Homo sapiens: one gene and its partners. The protein of the gene in region 4 interacts with the protein of the main gene of each other region in a biochemical or structural test. Each region holds a gene or a part of one and is shown on either strand. Other genes may lie near its edges.

What was found. Proteins that work in one complex are often made in the same cells at the same time.
Region 1: the proteins of TRERF1 (region 4) and YAP1 interact in a test that uses a peptide from one of them, tested with the Homo sapiens proteins (2 studies listed by BioGRID and IntAct, with this or other methods).
Region 2: the proteins of TRERF1 (region 4) and NEDD4 interact in a test that uses a peptide from one of them, tested with the Homo sapiens proteins (2 studies listed by BioGRID and IntAct, with this or other methods).
Region 3: the proteins of TRERF1 (region 4) and ITCH interact in a test that uses a peptide from one of them, tested with the Homo sapiens proteins (one large-scale study listed by BioGRID and IntAct).

Annotation. Positions count from the first base shown.
Region 1 is NC_000011.10:102,207,947-102,211,446, reverse strand, and holds part of YAP1 (transcriptional coactivator YAP1), read right to left. Parts: intron 1,931-3,500; coding exon 1,883-1,930; intron 1-1,882. UniProt on the Homo sapiens protein: Transcriptional regulator with dual roles as a coactivator and corepressor. Critical downstream regulatory target in the Hippo signaling pathway, crucial for organ size control and tumor suppression by restricting proliferation and promoting apoptosis.
Region 2 is NC_000015.10:55,983,613-55,987,112, forward strand, and holds part of NEDD4 (E3 ubiquitin-protein ligase NEDD4), read right to left. Parts: intron 1-3,500. UniProt on the Homo sapiens protein: E3 ubiquitin-protein ligase which accepts ubiquitin from an E2 ubiquitin-conjugating enzyme in the form of a thioester and then directly transfers the ubiquitin to targeted substrates. Specifically ubiquitinates 'Lys-63' in target proteins.
Region 3 is NC_000020.11:34,481,773-34,485,272, reverse strand, and holds part of ITCH (E3 ubiquitin-protein ligase Itchy homolog), read right to left. Parts: intron 1-3,500. UniProt on the Homo sapiens protein: Acts as an Acts as an E3 ubiquitin-protein ligase which accepts ubiquitin from an E2 ubiquitin-conjugating enzyme in the form of a thioester and then directly transfers the ubiquitin to targeted substrates.
Region 4 is NC_000006.12:42,256,427-42,259,926, forward strand, and holds part of TRERF1 (transcriptional-regulating factor 1), read right to left. Parts: intron 3,298-3,500; coding exon 2,913-3,297; intron 1,776-2,912; coding exon 1,709-1,775; intron 1,336-1,708; exon of another isoform or gene 1,048-1,335; intron 677-1,047; coding exon 537-676; intron 406-536; coding exon 302-405; intron 1-301.

The sequences.
Region 1 (3,500 bases), on a different chromosome or scaffold from region 4:
AAGATTTTTAAAAACCTCTTTCAAGTTTTTTGCTCTGGTCTGGGCAAATCTGAGTAATTACCTCTAATCTTCGTATCTTAGAAGCTTTACTACTAATAAGCCTCACCTTTTCTAAAACTTTACTATTTTAAAAAATCTAAGAATTCCTGATAATTTTAATAACAGTAAAGATTTACTTTTCTATTCAAGTATGAAACAAAGATCAAGAAGAATTTGACTTATTTATCAGATTCAGGGTATAAGACCTTGGGAAAAAAGGAAACAATTTCAACATTTTTTTGGCATGGAGGACTTTTTACCTGAATCCAAATCTCCTTTGAGTTAATTTCTGCTCCTATATTAGTTTCTATTTCATTTATCATGAATAAAATTCTTCTTTCAGAAACACTTCAGGCCAGACGTGGTGGCTCACGCCTGTAATCCCAGCAATTTGGGAGGCTGAGGTGGGCGGATCACGAGGTCAGGAGATCGAGACCATCCTGGCTAACACTGTGAAACCCCGTCTCTACTAAAAAATTCAAAAAGAATTAGCTGGGCATGGTGGCGGGCGCCTGTAGTCCCAGCTACTTGGGAGGCTGAGGCAGGAGAATGGTGTGAACCCGGAAGGCGGAGCTTGCAGTGAGCCGAGATCACACCACTGCACTCCAGCCTCGGCAACAGAGCGAAACTCCATCTCAAAAACAAAAACAAAAAACAAAAACAAAAAGACAAAACAAAACAAACACTTCAGAGAAATGGCAAAGAAAAAAATGGCTTCACGTTATAAAGACCCAATGCTATCCTGCACTTCACAGTCAAATGGTATATTAGTGCCCCCTCATCATAAGAATGTCTATGCTCAACTTTGGTGAAGATGGCTTATTATTGAGTTATCCCTTGCTTGGTCTTTTGATTAATGGTGGCATTTATGAGATAGATAAAGAAGAATAGAGATTTTCCCTCTCACAAAATTAACTGGTTTCTATGAAGACTGTATCTGACTTTTATCATCATGGTGCTCCAACGGACAACTTAACAGTATCCAAAATGAGTAGAATTTTGCCAACTCCTACTTCTACAGCAGATTCTAAAACAATGTACTTATTTAGCATAGTGCAGAGTAAGTTACATAGAAGGTGAGGCATTATATGGTTGCTTCTGCCCCAAGAGAAGTAGAATGATCCTCTGGCTCCGAATTTCTTCTAATCTTGTGGACCTCAAACACCTAAAATCTTTTTGGTTTTAAGAACGAGATTCTTCCCACGAGTCAGACAAGTGCCTGTGTTAGAAGAAAAATTGGCCACAATCTTTCCTTCTAAATAAGATGCCTTCACAACCAGGGCTCCCTGGGGTTCATCAGAGAATGCTGATAAAAGCCAACAAGAAAACCTGAAACACTATCCAGGCAGATACTCTCCTGATAATTTTGATATTTTTCCTTTGGAATGTCCACTAGAAAGAATTTTTCTCTTCCTCATAGTATCATGACTCTAAAATTTCCTAAAGTAGCCTATCCAAGTAAATACTGCTTTTGTTACTGTTCAATTTATTAATTCCTTTAAATCATTACACATACTATTTTAAGCTATTCAAATAAAAATTAGGCATACCTAGCTGATAGGATGTACAACTGAGACACAATACATTTAAATATAGAATAAAAAAGACCTCCATGGAATCAAAATAAACAGAAACTCCCTAGGAGGAGCAGGGAGGGAGCAGACTGTGTAGACTTTCTTGGAAGGGCAATGTTAACCTGAGTATCTTGGTAGAAAGATGGCTCAAAGTTATTCTCTGGGCTAATGTCCAATAAGGACAGGACCCTGGAATGTAAGTTTCTCTTTCCTAATTTAATATCTTTTTTTTTTTTTTTCCAGTGCTAAAACATCAGATAAGAGCCTACCTGACATTTTGGAGAATTTGCTGTGCTGGGATTGATATTCCGCATTGCCTAAGAGTAAAAAATAAGACGGATAAAAATTACTTTAAGCCACATGGTCTGGCTGTGTAGGCTGACTTACAAATTGTATCCAGACATATCACCATAGCACAGAATTCCCAAGCTACCCAAGAAGAAGCAGACTGACGAAGACAGGAGCCAATGGAGTCACCACATAACAAAACTGGAACCTCAGAAGTTTTTAACAGCATTGAGGATAGGACAGCAAGACTTTAGGAGTCAGAACTAAAAAATAAAATTTGATATTGGTCACGTAGGTTCTTTGTTTCTGAGTATTAGATAAAGCAGATACAATATATTTGATGTTTCAGTGCTAAGATAAACTGTCAAGGGAAGAAGTTCACAGGAAGCCAAAAGACTTAAGATATACTGAATTTATTGTGATTACTTTAAAAAAATCTAAAAATAGTCTATTAGTATGAGAATAGAGCAGGTCTGTCAACTTCAACATAAGAAAAGACGACACAGTAGGCAGTAAAGATGAAACAAAGAAGTTACCTTTAAAGGAAGTGAAGCTATTCTGTCCAGGACCCATCACCCAGAGTAAGTTTGAGAATAAAGATTTAGGAAAATCTTTGGAAGGAAGAGTTTTACAAATAGCAGCATTTGCCCACCAAAAAACCCCAGGATGATCTATGGCATAAAACAAAATGGCGAATGGCCCCATTTCTAGACTTTACAAATTATCTTAAAAACAGTATGGTTTTGACATTAGTAATTAAAGAACTTTTTTTTTAGTTTCTTGATTTTGACAGTTTTTATTCATAGTGAAATTGAGACCTGTATTTACTTAGAACAACTACTACTCGGCAACAACAAAATGAAAAACAATGAAAATAGGTTACATAAAACATATTTTAAAACTGCTCTTTTTTTTTCTATTAGCCATGTAATTATATTTTTGATGGTTCTAAGGTGTTCTAACAATAGTAGACGAAAAATATTCTTCCTTTATGGTAATTTGTTAGAAAGTCAGAGGTACAATAATGCTTCCTTTCTCCATCCTTTTTTATGTCAGATAAAGAAACATTTCTTTCAAGATCACTTTATAGGGGCCAAAAGGAAAACTTCCCCTCTACCCTCTAAAGGTTCGCTGAAAATGAACTGATAATAGACAAATTAACAGGAGAAAATGGCAAACAAATTTATTTAAGGTGCATAAGCATGGGGGAAATTGCAAGACAATTATTACCCAATAACCAAGTGAGTTCCAGATACTATATAATACCCTTCTTCACAGGGGAAGGGGACATGAGGGAAATGACGCCATTTTGAAGGGCAGTAAATGATTTTTAGGAAGAATGAATGGGCCCAGTACACAGACAATGGTTAGTAAATAATTCTCTTTGGAAACTGAATGGGATCTGAGAACAGACAATAGTCTGGGCAAAGTTCCTCTGAGCTCTCTAGGTGTGATATTTAATTTTTAGTCTTTTCCTCTGTCATACAAGTTTCAGGCTTCTCTGGTTAATGAAATTTTGAGGAGGGGATCAAAGGCAATTGTATTCCTTTTGGTGGGTCTGGTTTCTAGGCAGATAAAGGAACTTCAAGGAACAGCCTC
Region 2 (3,500 bases), on a different chromosome or scaffold from region 4:
CTTTTTTTTTTTTTTTTGAGACAGAGTGTTCTTCTGTTGCCCAGACTGGAGTGCAGTGGCGCAGTCTCGGTTCACTGCAACCCCCACCTCCCGATTCAAACAATTTTCCTGCCTCAGCCTCTCAAGTACCTGAGACTACAGGTATATGCTACCATGCCTGGCTAATTTTTGTATTTTTGGTAGAGACAGGGTTTCACCATGTTGGCCAGGCTGGTCTCGAACTCCTGACCTCAAGTGATCCACCCATCTCAGCCTCCGAAAGTGCTGGGATTACAGGTGTGAGCCACTGCGCCCAGCCTGTTATAAATACTTTCATCTTACACTGTTTTCCTTAATAACACTTATAAAATATTGATGTGTGATAATTTATTTAATGTTTCTCTCTCCCTCTTGGCTATAAAATCGGTAAAGTATATTCTATATCATTATACCTCATGCCCTGACCCACGTGCCTGATACATAGTGTTCATCAAATATTTGTTAAGCAAATACAGAAATCAAGTACTTCAGAGGTCCACCTAAAAGCTTTATCAAGAAAAGACAGAAGATGTGGAAATGAGAGCATAACAATTACAAGTTAATTTTGCACACATTCCATTCACATTCATCATATTCCTGAGAAAAAGTCTCTTCTGTTAAATTATTTTATTTGCGTATTAGTAGCAGGAAAGTGGAAGGACCAAGTGTTTGTTATGAATATAACACTTCTCCCTACTGGGAGAAGGTTCTTGAACAAATCAGAATCTCATATTCCTTATCTCTAAAATGGGGGTAATACTTCCTACTTCTGCAATAATGTTGTGATGATTACAGCTAAAGTATGAAAAAATCTAACCTGGTGCCTGGCACAGAGTGGGTATTCAGTTAAAGGCAGTTGCTATTTATTTAGGTTGACTCTTTTTCCCAAAGGAGAATACTTTCACTAAAGCATCTTTATTGACGGCCATGATTGTTTGTTCATATTACTCTCTTCATTGCCCCAACATGTCTCGCATCAGTTGAAGCCAGACATTTGAGTCCAGCCATGAGTTATAATAATGGGCTACAGACATATTTACTCAACTTTCAGAAAAGCCTTATCAAAATGCTTTTTGTTTGTGCTGTGCCTTTCTCCCTGCATTTATCTCCAGACTTCTCCTATCCCCTCCCCATTCATTTATCCTCTTAAACTTTGATACTATTGGCAAGGAGGCCAGAAGAAATAGAAGTCCTAAAGAAGAAGTAACATCAATTGCCACAGAATTCAGCAGAACAATGGGTTCAGCAATTCAAATCAGCTATCTGACTTAAAGATTCAGCTCTGGAGTAGATAACCATGATAGATTGAGAAGCAATTGTGTTCAACTGGTTCCTGCATGTCTCCAAATGCTATAGAATATTTCTGAGACAGCAAGGGGATGGGAGAATCAGCAGACTTAAATATCCTGCTCTGACTGATGTTTAATTATGCAAGATTCACCAAGTAAGTGACAGGGCCAGAATTCCAACACAAAAGAATCCCATTTTCTATACCCCTGCTCACCCTAAATGATTTATTTACAAGGTCTCTTCCAGCTCAAAGATTCTACTCCTATGTGATATATGAATTCCTAATTACCTATAAAAGAAATTATAGTTCCTTCTCCTTTTCTGTTCCTGGCGCAGAGCAGTCAATCACAGGCCACTACAGAAAATGTCTGTGGAGTGAGGGTGAATTTCACAGAGGTGCATGGTTGGCATGCTCGCCAGCACGGGGCACTGAGGGGAGGAGGGAGATACCATACAGAGATGCATCAGAAGGGTGCCCACTGGCAAGGGTACTGAGGAGGGGAGGACGGCGTTGCACAGGGATGCTGCATAGAGAATAGCAATATTCCCACTGGCATCCAAGGATGTGAAGAGCTGAAGTGGCAGAGGAGATGTCTGCGTGGTCAGGAAGTTAGTTACACTGAACACATAAGTCAATGAACAAATATATTAAGGATAATAAAAGTCAAATTTTTTCACTGTTAGAAAAGGTACTTATGGCTATAAAGGAACTCAGGTATTAGGTTTGAATTGGAAAAAATCAGTATGAATTCATGATTTTTAAATTTATGTATTTACAGATTGATATAGAAATAGCTATAGATCTTTGTGTATACTTATATATGTGTGTAGAGTACACATACACACACACACACACACACACACACACGCTTAACTGTTCAGAGATGGTCCAAGAGTATATCCCAGTAACAATGAGCACACCAAGTACCCAAATTGTAGCATGTAAAAACCATTTTATACTAAATAGGACCAGTGCTTCTAGGGAAAATGGCTGATTGTAGATAGCTGAGCCAAGCAAAATACAAGAGAAGCCTGGAACAACTTCTGCCAGAAAGTGTTCAAAGAATGATGGGGACTTGTTACGAAGACCTAGGAACCTCCTTGAAAGGGCTCCCACTGGACAAACTGGGACAGTATGAGCAATAAAATATTTAATGACAGTAACTGATTACAACCTGCTGAATAAAGTGGGATTTTACAAGTCTATGCTGATATAAATAAATGACAGGAAAAGGAAAGCTCTTCTTACATAGAATGCCAACTAACAGAGATGGAAATAAAACAAAATAGTGGTGTTTGGTTCAGATAGAATTCATCAATGGATGCTAAAACTGAGGATGAAGACTTGACGAGAAATAGGATATTGGCATAATCTTACGATATGTCCCCTGAAAATACTATCAATTATAAAGAGAAAAAAGGTGACATTACAGAGAAGAAACCTGGCAGACACCAAGGTGACCAAGTGATTAAGGTCACTGACAGTGTTGGGACAAGTCAGCATCATGTGTCCCCTGGTGTGATGCATGCGAAGAACACAGCATCATTTCTATGATTCCTGCCAAGAGAGCGTGACCTGAACATGGTCATCAAGAAACACTAAACAGACCCAAACAGACCCAAAATGAGAAACATCGTAGGATGTAAGGCCTGTCCTTGCTTTTTTTTTTTTTTTTTTTTTTTTTGTGAGACGGAGTCTCGCTCCGTCGCCGAGGCTGGAGTGCAGTGGCATGATCTTGACTCATTGCAAGCTCTGCCTCCCAGGTTCACGCCATTCTCCGGCCTCAGCCTCCCGAGTAGCTGGGACTACAGGCACCCACCACCACACCCGGCTAATTTTTTTTTTTTGTATTTTTAGTGGAGATGGGGTTTCACCATGTTAGCCAGGATAGTCTCAATCTCCCGACCTCGTGATCCACCCGTCTCGGCCTCCCAAAGTGCTGGGATTACAGGCGTGAGCCACCGCGCCCGGCCAAGGCCTGTCCTTCTTAAAACTGTCTAGGATAAGAAAAACTGTGCATGTGTCTTTATAGCAGCATGATTTATAGTCCTTTGGGTATATACCCAGTAATGGGATGGCTGGGTCAAATGGTATTTCTAGTTCTAGATCCCTGAGGAATCGCCACACTGACTTCCACAATGGTTGAACTAGTTTACAGTCCCACCAACAGTGTAAAAGTGTTCCTATTTCT
Region 3 (3,500 bases), on a different chromosome or scaffold from region 4:
AAAGATATCACAAGAATGTTTATAGCAGCTTTACTCATAAAAGCCCCAGACTGAGAAACAACCAAAACATTTATCACCAAGAGAATGGATAAACAAATTTTGAGATATACACAGCATGGAATATTTCTCAGCAATAAAAAGGAATAAAATACTGATATAAACAATATGGCTGAATCTCACAAACACCAAATAAAAGAAAAAATCAGACACTAAAAGCTAGATATAAGAGTACATACTCTATGATTTCATTTTAGGAAGTTTAAGATCAGAAACAGTTATAGAAATAGAACTAAACAGAAATGGTTACCTACCTCTGGGGCTGGGAGAAGGGAGGTGTGCATTGGCCCCTTATGGGGTCCAGAATAGAAAAAAAAGTTCCACAATTTGGGTCATATTTACATGGACATGATGCTATATGGAACAGTGTTTACAGAATTGGTAATTAAATGAGTGATCTAGCACAACTTCTCTCCATAAAATGCTCACATTTGGGCTGATATATATATTTGTCAAATTTCAACTTCTACACTTAAGATCAGTGCATTTTATTCTAAGGAAATTATACTTCTTAAAATAATACTAAAAACCCCCCAAACTCTGAAATTTTAAGCAAGCCATTATTGAAGTAGATACTAAAAACCTTTTTAGCTGCCCATTATCTTAAAATGTTATCTTACCAGCAACAAAACTATTGAGAAACGTAGTACATCTCTTGGAATCTCGAAACATTACCTCTCTGGAATGCTATATATGTCATAAGAAAATCTAGACATATCATAACAAAAAAACTGGAGAATTGACAAAAACGAATTGACTACATTTTAAAAGCAGATTTCAAAATAAACTTTTAAAAGGATAGATTGTTGTCCAAGAAATAATGACAGCTCACTGTGTTAAATAGTATACTTTCAATTATGGAGGGAAAAACCAGGCAAGAAATGCAGAACCTGGAACTTAAGAAGTAAATATGCAAAATTTAACCCTGGCTGGAAAGAATTGCTATTGAGAAGGTATGAATGAACTATTAGCTCTTGAGACTAGTAGCATGAACCAATGGAAATAATCAGAAAGGATATACTATAAAACATCATTTTAGTTATAAATTTTACCCAACCTTATGATATAGTTTGGCTCTGTGTCCCCACCCAAATCACATCTTGTAGCTCCCATAATTCCTATGTGTTATGGGAGAGAACCAGTGGGAGATAACTGAATCATGGGGGCGGGCCTTTCTCATGTTGTTCTCATTATAGTGAATAAGTCTCACAAGATCTGATGGTTTTAAAATGGGAGTTTCCCAGCACAAGCTCTCTCTTTGCCGGCTGCCATTCATGTAAGACATGCCTTGCTCCTCCTTGCCTTCCACCATGATTGTGAGGCCTCCCCAGCCATGTGGAACTGTAAGTCCATTAAACCTCTTTCTTTTGTAAATTGTCCACTCTCAAGTATGTCTTAGCAGCAGTGTGAAAACAGTAAATTGTTACCAGGAGTGGGGTGCTGCTGAAGATAACTGAAAATGTGGATGCAACTTTAGAACTGGGTAACAGGCAGACGTTGGAACAGTTTGGAGGGCTCAGAAGAAGACAGGAAAATGTGGGAAAGTTTGGAACTTCCTATAGACTTGTTGAATGGCTTTGACCAAAATGCTGACAGCAATATGGACAATAAAGTCCAGGCTGAGGTGTTCTCAGATGGAAATGAGAAACTTTTTGGGAAATGCAGCAAAGGTGACTCTTTGTATGTTTTAGCAAAGAGACTGGCAGCATTTTGCCCCTGTGCTAGAGACTGGTGGATTTGTACTTGAGAGAGACGATTGTACTTGAGAGAGATGATTTAGGGTATCTGGTGGAATAAATTTCTACGTAGCAAAGCATTCAAGAGGAGACTTGCGTGCTGTTAAAGGCATTCAGTTTTGTAAGGGAAGCAGAGCATAAAAGTTTGGAAAATTTGCAGCCCAACAATGCAATAGACAAGAAAATCTCATTTTCTGAGGAGAAATTCAAGCTGGCTACAGAAATTTGCATAAGTAATGAGGACCCGAATGTTAATCCCCAAGACAATGTGGAAAATGTCTACAGGGCACGTCAGAGGTCTTCATGGAAGCCCCTCCTATCACAAGCCTGTAGGCAGGCCTAGGAGCTAAAAATGGTTTCATGGGCCGGGCCCAGGGTCCCCACGCTGTGTGCACTCTAGGGACTTGGTGCCCTGTTTCCTAGCTGCTCCAGCATGACTAAAAGTGGCCAAGGTACAGCCCGGGTTGTTGCTTCAGAAGGTGGAAGCCCCAGGAGTTGGCAGCTTCCACGTGCTGTTGAGCCTGAGGGTGCACAGAAGGCAAAAATTGAGGCTTGGGAACCTCCCTCTAGATTTCAGAAGACGTATGGAAATGCCTAGATGCCCAGGCAAAAGTCTGCTTGCAGGGGCAGGGCACTCACAGAGAACCTCTGCTAGGTCAGTGTGGAGGGGAAATGTGAAGTTGGAGGCCCATACAGAGTCCCTACTGGGGCACTGCCTAGTGGAGCTGTGAGAAGAGGGCAACCGTCCTCTAGACCCCAGAATGGTAGATCCACCAACAGCTTGCAGCATGAGACTGGAAAAGCCATAGACACTCAACGCCAGCCCATGAAAGCAGCCGGTGGGGGGCTATACCCTGCAAAGCCCCAAGGGCAGTGTTGCCCAAGGCCATGGGAGGCCACCTCTTACATCAGGGTGACTTGCATATGAGACATGGAGTCAAAAGAGATCATTTTGGAACTTGAAGATTTGACTGCCCTGCTGGATTTCAAACTTGCATGGGGCCTGTAGCTCCTTTGTTTTGGCCAATTTCTCCCATCTTGAATGGCTGTATTTACCCAATGCCTGTATCCCTGAGTGTATGTAGGAAGTAACTAAGTTGCTTTTAATTTTACAGGCTCATAGGCGGAAGGGACTTCCCTTGTCCCAGATGAGACTTTGGACTGTGGACTTTTGAGTTAATGCTGAAATAAGTTAAGACTTTGGGGACTGTTGAGAAGGCATGATTGGTTTTGAAATGTGAAGACATGAGATTTGGGAGGGGCTAGGGGCAGAATGATATGGTTTGGCTCTGTGTCCTCACCCAAATCTCACCTTGTAGCTCCCATAATTCCCATGTGTTGTAAGAGAGAATCAGTGAGATAACTGAATCATGGGATCACGGGGGTGGGTCTTTCCCCTGCTGTTTGCATGACAGTGAATATGTCTCACAAGATATGATGAAGTGTTTTGTTCATTCGTTTGTTTGTTTTGAGACAGAGTCTTGCTCTGTTACCAGGCTGGAGTGCAGTGGTGCTATCCTGGCTCACTGCAATCCCCGCCTCCCAGGTTCAAGCCATTCTCCTGCCTCAGCCTCCCTAGTAGCTGGGATTACAGGCACATGCCACCACACCCAGCTAATTTTTGTATTTTTAGTAGAGATGGGGTTTCACCATGTTGGCCAGGATGGTCTCAATCTCCTGACCTTGTGATCTGCCTGCCTTGGCCTT
Region 4 (3,500 bases):
GACTCAGTTTTCTGATGTGAAGTGCAAGATGTGGAAAAGAAATTCTAATGTCCTAGGACAGATGTACCCACAGTTCTAACTTTAGGAACAGATGTGGAAACAGAAATCCAATTGGAGATTTTTTTCTACAGACTTTAACATCCTGACCTACCCACCGAGAGAAGGAATAGGGAGGCGTGCTGATTGGTCATCATGCGCCGATTGGTCATTACAAATTGGTTGTATGGTACATGAGACAATATTGAAACTTGGGAAAATACTCTTCAGGAATTTGTAAAGCCTCTTTTTCATGGTTCCTTACCATCACATCACCTTTGGCCTCAAACAGAGAGTGCAAAGCAAATTCAGAATTGGTCCCTCCACCTGGCAATGCACTGGAACAGCACAAATTCAGAAGATTCTCCACTGTTGGGAATAAGGAGAAGCCAATGCATCAGAGAGAGCTGAGTGTAATGGAAAACACACCAATCCCAGAGCCAGTGATCTCAGTGAGAGAATCAAACCTCTCCCACCCAGCTCTTCCCATATGCCAATACCTCTTTGCTGGAGGTCATGGTTTTCTAGTTCTGGCCAGGGCTTCCATACCAGTGTGGCCTTGTGTGTGTCCTGGGCCAGGGCAGAGATATCTTGGAGTTCAGGGATTTCTGCTTGGAATCTCAAGCCAATGTTGATGCGTCTTTAAATGACAAGAAGAAAAACAACAATGTGGTCTTCAATTTGATGGCTCAGGCCAAGGGCAACTGTCAGGAACTTGAAAAAGAAGGAAACTAGTTCTTTCTGCAAGAATGCAGGGGCATTTCCTCACAGTGTGACCCTAAGATTCCACACGTGGCCTTTTCACTGGGATAAGGAACAGCTTTAAGATTAGGGAGAAATATTTTAGGAGCAAGGGGGCAGTCGGCCTGGGGCTTTTACAGCTCCCTGTAACTGGGAGAGGGAGGGTGATTATTTCCAACATAACAGTTTCCCAGAGCATGGCCAATGGTGCCATTTAACAACACAAAAAAGGGGACAAATACAAAGCATTCATTTTTTTATCTCTTTCAGATCACTTTCACAGATATTATCCCATCCGAACCTCACAGAGATCTGTGATGTAAGCAAGGCTGGAATAATTACTCCCATTTGACGAGTCAACTAAACCCTACAAAGGTTAACTGGATCAAGATCAAATTACAAAATGGTGTTGGAACTTAGGTTTTTTGATTCCTGACTCAATCTACTCACCACTCTACCACCTGGCCTCTTTTCTGTGCCTATCCATGAAAATAACCACCTTTGCCTCTCCTAATACCACCCACTGCCTATGCAAAATTAAAGTACTTAACAAGCCCATTTGGAGGACTGGCCAAGAATTGGGGAGGAGGGAAGTGAAGACATTCAGAAGGAGCCTCTTAAAGAATGAGCCACCCGGAGGGAGATGCCTGTGTCACTGGGGATGAGAAAGCACTGCCTGTGGAGCCAGACGCAGGGACGCTAGGCTCTCTGAATACAGGGCTTCATGCTTTGACCATGTATTTAGTCTTTGGCAAAGGCCTTGAAATACTGGCAACCATTGTGCAGGGAAACAACAGTACTCAAGAAATAACCACGATCCTACAATTTCTACAACTGCTCTCTCAGTGTAATCCTCTGACTACAAAAGTATTAACTATACTTCTCAAGAAGCTGAGGCTTCTGTTCTAAAGAGTAATTGACTTTTCCTTACGGTTCAACATCTACAGTCTGCTCTCCAGGCCCTGGGGTGACCGTCACGTTGCTGCCATCGATGCTGTCTAAAACACAAAAATCAGAGGTCACTAGTCAACAGGGAAGGAATGTTGAAAAAGACTAAAGCAAATGAGCAGTTACCTAACCAGCCATAATAGAGCTTCTCTCCTACCCAGCTCCTGCCAGAGTTATCCTTGACAGTTTCCAGGGAGCTGGGTGGAGTATGGTGCAAAATAACTTAGGGTTACCCATTTCTCACACAGGGTGAGGAGAAGCCAGCTGTCCCACAATGGTCTGCTAAGCGGTATGATTTCTATGCAATTATTCTTGCTCCAGAAAGAGATCCTAGCCTCTCTATGCTTGATTTTTATAAAGCATGCTAAAATGTCAAGGCTTGATCTTGCATGTAATACCTAATCTTATTTGTACATCTACTGAGTACATTTTCTTTTTTTTGAGACGGAGTCTCGCTCCTTCGCCCAGGCGGGAGTGCTGTGGCGCGATGTCGGCTCACTGCAGCCTCCGCTTCCCGGGTTCAAGAGATTCTCCTGCCTCAGTCTCCTGAGTAGCTGGAACTACAGGTGCCTGCTACCACATCCCGTTATTTTTTTTTTTGAGACGGAGTTTCACTCTCATCCCCCAGGCTAGAGTGCAGTGGCATGATCTTGGCTCACTGCAACCTCTGCCTCCCAGGTTTAAGCGATTCTCCTGCCTCAGCTTCCCAAGTAGCTGGGATTACAGGTGCGTGCCACCATGCCCGGCTAATTTTTGTATTTTTAGTAGAGACGGGGTTTCACCATGTTGGCCAGGCTGGTGTCCAACTCCCGGCCTCAAGTGATCCACCCGCCTCGACCTCCGAAAACGCTGGGATTACAGGTGTGAGCCACCGCGCCCGGTCTCATTTTTTCTCTCTTGCACGATCATTGCTGGCAGCCTTAAAAAGTGGGTGAACATTTCAACTGTTTCCTTATCCCAGAGACTGTAGTGATCACTTTATGCATCTGTCTCCCAATTAGACTGCGATTCCCTTGAGGATAAGGGCTATGTATTCCAAGTCTTTCTTAACACCCAGCAGCGCGTGCTACATACAGCCAATACTCCGCAAAAGTCTGTGGGATAAATGAGAAAGCTAAAGAAAACGAGATGTCCCAGGACTTTACCCAGCACCCAGAGCCCAGGAGGACGCTAAAGGGGTGACTCACTGGAGCGACACAGCAGCACCCGTGGTGTGGGCGTCAGGGGCGTCAGGGGCAGCTGCGGGTGGGCGCCAGGGCCGTGGCCGGAGATGAGGACATTGCTGAAGAGCCCCGAGCCCTGGCGCACCGGGCTCAGCATGGGTGGGGGCGTGTAAGGGGGCAGCTCGTGGGTGGGGTCCAGGAGCAGGTGGTCCCCGAGGACGCGCGGGGAGCGCAGCTGGCTCTGGTACAGGGTGGCGCCCGAGTAGGAGGCAGCGGGGTTCGGGTTGTAGGAGGGCGGCGGCGGGATGAAGAGAGGTTCCGGCCGGTGCCGGAACTTTTTCTTCTCCTGCACGGTCTTGAGGGGCTCCTCGGCTTTGGGCACACTCGGCTGATGCTTCCTGGGGATTTCCTAAAACCGGAACAACGATCTGATTCGAATACTTCAGCTTCCCCCGCAGGCCATTTCCACAGGTTCAGGGAAGGGGGCCTTCTACTGTCTAAGCAGAGAGCCCTTCTGCTTGACCCCCCCACCCCCAACGCCCCCACATTCTGACCACATCCATTTTAGGCAAAGCGAGTTCTGGTTGCTAGACTAGGGAGAAAACTAAGGTT